Linked DNA regions of Homo sapiens: region 1 is linked to region 2. Evidence: fine-mapped expression QTL. Tissue or cell type: whole blood. Region 2 holds a variant in brackets; the other region holds the start of a gene. All regions are shown on one strand. Distances are between the middles of the regions.

The links.
Region 1: it holds the start of RTL10, and the variant in region 2 is fine-mapped to the expression of RTL10 in whole blood (TOPMed, PIP above 0.99).

What each region holds. Positions count from the first base shown.
Region 1 is chr22:19,853,837-19,856,614 of GRCh38, reverse strand. RTL10 (retrotransposon Gag like 10) reads left to right here and starts at 1,741. Exons shown (of 3, transcript NM_024627.6): 1 at 1,741-1,955; 2 at 2,076-2,172. GNB1L (G protein subunit beta 1 like) reads left to right here and starts at 1,741. Exons shown (of 8, transcript NM_053004.3): 1 at 1,741-1,795; 2 at 2,076-2,172. LOC124905080 (a long non-coding RNA gene) reads right to left here and starts at 1,643. Exons shown (of 2, transcript XR_007068005.1): 1 at 903-1,643. RefSeq lists enhancers at 731-1,210, 2,633-2,778.
Region 2 is chr22:19,808,954-19,811,731 of GRCh38, reverse strand. All of the region lies in intron 5 of GNB1L (G protein subunit beta 1 like), which reads left to right. Among named protein-coding and RNA genes, the nearest start is that of GNB1L, 45 kb to the left of the region's middle. RefSeq lists a silencer at 1-167. The variant C/G (reference allele first, on the strand shown) is at 1,183.

The DNA.
Region 1 (2,778 bases), 45 kb before region 2:
CCATGTTGACCAGGCTGGTCTCAAACTCCTGACCTCAAATGAGCTGCCCGCCTTGGGCTCCCAAAATGCTGGGATTACAAGCATGAGCCTCCACAGCGCCTGGCCTAAAAATTTTCTTTCTTCAATAATAAAATAACTATAGCTTACTGGATGACCAGTTACATATGTGGTCCCTAGTTGACCAAAACGTTGTTATGCGGTGCATGACAGTTATACACAGGAGAGGGCCTGAAAGAAAAAAAAAATTTGGACCAAAAAAGGCCTTTTCTGGCTCAGTTGGATTCATTTCTTCCACAGGCCCACTGCCCACTCTGCTGATGGGCGCTGAGCTGTAGACTGAGCTGCCTTGAGGCTGAGGTAAGCTGAATTTGTGGGAACCCCCACCTTTCCCTTGAGGGAGGAAGTTTAAATTATCAGGTCAATTAGGAAAGATACAACCGAAAAAAATCCAAATTTCATTCCCACTTCAAGGAGGCGTTTCCTGGCTCGGTGCCACTTTTATTATTTTTGGCCCAGGCTGCTGAAAGCCCCACAGACCCAGGGAAGGTACAATGTGACCTTTGATTCGCGTTTCAGGGATCAAAGTGAGTGAGTTTGGGTGTAAATGCAGATAACATTTCAGAGAGCTTTCATGAAAGGAGTCACTGGACCAGGGCAGAAAGGGAGCTGGTGTGTTACGTGTGTGTTCCCCTTGAGAAGCGTCACTTTCCGGTGAATCCGGCTGCCTGCCCGTGGCCCCAAGGACTCCTGGCTTGCATCCAGGTCCTTGGCCCACAGGCATCAGATCCTGAGCTGGGGCGCCTGCACCCTCTCCCACCTCTTCTCTAGGCACCGTGAAGCCGAGGAGAGGTGGCGTGGGACGGCTTGTGCAAGTGAGAAGAGCACCACCACTTCATCCTCACCTATCTTGTCCCAGGATCTGGGTGCTGACTCGGCAGGCTTGGGCTGGGCACGGCCCTGTGGGGAGGGCTTGGTAGCCTGCCCTCGCTGTCGTCTCCGGGTCCAGCCTCGGCCTGAGTCGGGAAGCACACAATTATATCCACAACAAGGAGGCCCAGAGGCCCTGCCTGCAGCCCCCAGGTATGCAGGTAGAGGGTCCTCTCGGACTGCCTGCCCCCTGCCTCTGGCGCCCAGCCTGCAGCTACGTCGAACCGGGCCCTAACAAGGTTCCCCGCACTGGCAATGAGTGATGAGAGGCACTCCGCGGGCACGCCGTTCCAGGGCGCTCACGAGGCCCAGCAGCCCCGCTATGCCCACATCCACCCCGACACCTGCAGCCCCCCAGGCTTAGCCCGGCCCCGCAGCAGCCCTCTCGACGCCCAGCAGCACCCCAGTGTCTGGCTGACGCCAGGGCAGTAACGGCGGGCTGAAGCAGCATCGGCCCCTCGGTCTACGCCACAGCCGGGTGCAGATTTCCCGGATCTGAGGGACCGCCGGGCACCGTCCGCTGGGGATCATGAGGGGCAGCTTTGGCCCGACCGTCTCGCGCCTGTACACGCGGCCCCACCTGATCCCGTGGCACTTGGCGCGGCGTGGGAATGGGCGCGCTCTCCCATCACCCACCGCGCGGCACTGCCGCGCCAGCAGGGACCGGGAGAGCCTGCGAGGTAGCGGCCACACGGCATACAGCGCAGGCGCGGCCTGGATGGGAGGAGCGCGTGGAGCGTGCCGGGAGCATGCGCCGGGTCGTACACGGCGGCCGCGCGCACGCTGGGGGCGTGGCTGCGCGATGTAATCGGTCTCTGGACGCTGCGCGGCGCTCCTAGGAGCAGGCGTTCCCGACTCCGGCAAGAGGGTCAGTGTGGAGGCGGGAGCCCGGGCGGCCGGCTTGAACTCCGTGCACGCGGGCCTGGAGCTGCGCCCCTGCGTCTTTTCCCGACTTCTGATCCGCAGAGGGGCACTCGGAGCCCCAGCCTGGGTCGCAGTGCCTTCGGTCTGCGGGCCTCAGTTTCTCGGTCCGCGCCGGGGGTTTGTGGGGGCACCTGGAGACATTTGGGCCGTTCTCGCAGTCTCGGGAAGCCGCGCCCGCTCCTTGCCTGGCCTCACGGCGGCCGATCTCGTTCTCCACTTTCTAGGTGGCGCCTGGACTCTCGCCCTCAGAGGGAGGCCCGTCCCACGGTCTGTGGCTACGGATCCCAGGACCCTCTTCGCGGGCGATTCGCGTAGCCTCAGGTGGGTGGGCTTCTTGTTGCCGTGGGCCTTGTGAGCTCGTATTTCCTGCATGGCGGTTGCTGGGGGGCGGGCGGTGCAGTCGTCTGCACTCAGCTTGCTTTAAGGCTTTGGGCAGGTTTTGTTCTTGGGGCTCCTGGGTCTCCCCAGAGCAGAGAACGGCTCCAGCGTTCCAGGTGCTGCCTTTGGCCTTGTGGGGGCAAACACACATGCGCCGTGGTACCTGCCCCTTTAGGATAGTGCTGTCCAGTCTAGAAGGGCCGAAAGTCTTCTATGCCAGGCAGTGTGGGGAGAAAAGTAGGGGGACCAACAGACTGATAGGCGTGGGAGGGCTAAGGTTCTCAAAATGGTGAGAGTGCGGCCCAGGGTTAGGAAGGCTCAGGCCCAAAGCAGGCCTGGCTGGCTGGTGCAGGGAAGCCTTCTCCCAGACTGCAGGGGACACAGGTGCGCAGGTGAGTGGGCAGGGTAGGGGACTGGGAAGAAGGGAAGGCAGAGATCTGGGTAGCACACTGTGGCTCCCGGGCATGGGGTGTGGTCATTGTGGGCAACCTGGATACCTAACCTTGGCTGGTGGTGGGAGCTGGGCCCTGGATCGGGGTCACTGCTTTT
Region 2 (2,778 bases):
TCAGGGGAAAGGTGAGCTAGGGAACACCCAGGGGGTGGGGGGATCACCAAGCAGGGAGGCCACTGTTAGGTGGAGCTTAGGCCAGAATGACCAGAGGTGTTGGTAACACAGGACTGGCCCAGCTGGACAGTGGTATCCACACCCCCAGTGGCACAGGAGGCAGGGTCTGCCAAGGGAGGGGTGCCCAAGATGTGCGGGGAGGGTGTCATAGTGGAGGAGGGTGTGGCTGGAGGCTCAGCTCTTGGGGGAGCTGAAGGGAAATCAGAGAAGAGCCTTTGAGTGGCGACTGTCCCACCTGGTGAGTGGGGCATGGTGGCCCGAGGGCGGGGCATGGGGAGGACATACCATGGAATAGGGGGCGCACACGTGGGGGCTACTGTCCATGCCCACTGCCGAGTCCTCCCCATTCGCTGTGCCCGGGCAGTCTTTGGGGCTGGTACTGGGCAGGACGGCCCCCACGCACAGTTGGGCTTGGCCCCTGCCCAAGGAGAGTCGTTCTGTCTTCAGGCAGATCCAGTACAGAAATAATGAGATAGGAACAGGCATTTATTTGTTCATTGCATTTAAATAACCAATTAGGAGCTACATACACTTTTCTTGCCAATCTGCCAAAAACCTGTTACAAGTTGTATTTATGTGAGAAAGAGGGGCGTGCTTCCTCCCCCGGGACCCAAGGTCTACAGACCCACAGGAATGCTGCAGGAGTTTGAGTCAGCTCTTCCCTTGGCCTGCTGTGCTCCATGCGCTGGTCTCGGCCACCCCCAGGCCGCCAGCCAGCACTCGGTCAGCCTGCGCTGCCCCCTGCCACACGTCCCCTGTGCTCAAGGCTGTCTAACCCTCCTCCTAGCTTTCAGCTCTCCCTGTGGGGCAGCATCTGTCTTTTCCCGGGGCAGCCTGTCTGGGGACCTCTCACATCCTGGGAAAACAGTTGCTTTCCACATTCCCACCTGGAATCTGTCAGACTGGGCGGGAGAAAGCCTCACTGGCCTGCACCCAGACAACGCCCAGGGAGCCGCACTCCCACCCCACTCGGCCGGCTGGGTGGCCACACTTGCCCAAACCTAACATTTTTCCTTCTGGAAACAAAAGTTGCAGTCAGGTGCCAGGCGGAAAGCTCATGGGTGTCTGTAGGAGGCTCCAAGTACAGGCGCAGGCAGGGGCAGCCCCGGGCTGAGGACCCAG[C/G]CCAGGTAGACGTGGTGTGTACCTCTGGTGCTCAGGCCCAGGGCTCACCACTCCCCTGCACCCAGGATGTGGTTCAAGGCGCCGCCACCCCCGCTCCCTCCTGCAGCGCCCAGAGTGGGGCATCAGGGCTGCCCTGGGTTCTGCCCTCACCGCACCCCTCCTCCCCCCATCTTTTGCCCCTGCCCTCACTGGCCTGCTCAAGTCCTTTGCCCTTGATGTCCCCTCACTGTCCCCAGAGGGGTCTTTTGGAGCCCAAATTGAGACAGGCCTTCCTTGGTTGGGGACTGTGTATGGCCGTGTAGGCTGTGTAGCCAGTGCCTGCCTCCTCCGCAGCCCTCCCCACCCCACAGAGGCACAGGTGTGCTCAGGGCGGCTCCTCCTGCCCCTGGCTTAAGTCCCCTACCTCCCCACCCCATTAACTGCTGGAACTAGCCCATCTTCCTGATATAGCGACAAGAAGAACAGATCTTATTTTAAGAAATCTGGCACAGAGGAGTGCAAAAAGTAGGAAATCATAGTCCCAGCTACTCAGGAGGCCAAAGCAGGAGGAACCCAGGAGTTCGAGACCAGCCTGGGCAACACAGTGAGACTCCATCTCTGCAAAAAGTTAGCTGGGCCTGGTGGCCGCACACCTGTAGTCCCAGCTACTGGGGAGGCTGAGGTGGGAGGGTTACTTGAGCTCAGGAGTTCAAGGCTGCAGTGAGCTGTGATGGCACCAGCCTGGGTGACAGAGTGAGACTCTGACTTTAAAACAAAACAAAACTTCTCAATTTAATATGGGGAAAACAGGTTGTGAAATGGGAAAAGTTCCCTTATCCCCTCCCGGGGCGTGCAATGGAGGTGTGTTTCGCTTCCTCGGTGTCCCACTGCTCAAACTTCTAGGGGAGCATACAGACAGGCAGGCTGTGAGGCTTTGACCCCACAGCAGTGTCTAGGGGTGAATGTTTACAGCTGAAGCCCCAGTGAGTGTGTGTTACAGGGTGCTCTTTTAGTTTAGCTGTCCATAGGTGGCTTGTATTAGTCAGCTCAATTAGACCCTTGCCTTATTGCAAGGACAGAAGGCTTTCAGTATCCTGGGGTTCTTGCCTTGGTGTACTGGAAGAATTGGATCACACATGGGCTTGGAGAATGAGTGCAAGGTTTTATTGAGTGGAAGTAGCTCTCAGCAGATGAGGGAGCCAGAAGGGAGATGGTTTTCCCCTGGAGTTGGGCTGCTGGGTGGCCTGGGCTCTCCTCCAACTGCCCGGCCAGATTCCACCTCATTCCGCTCGCTGGTTGATGGCCTGCCAGCATGCCAGCCTCTGTCGGTGTGCTCTTCCACCACCGTGCTCCCCTCAACGTCCTCTCAACGTCCAGCCACTTGTGTCTCTGCTTGCTATGGTCTTGGGGGTTTTTAAAGGCACAGAATGGGGGTGTGGTGAGCCAGGGTGGTCTTGGGAAATGCAGCATTTGGGTGCGAAGGCAGGAGTGCCTGTCCTCACCTAGGTCTATAGGGACAGGCCCGGGGGTGGAGCCCTTGCCAGGTGACTTCCCTTCCTAGCACTTCCCTGCCCCTCTCCCGTATCATTTGGAAATGTGGGGAGTGAGCCAGGCAGT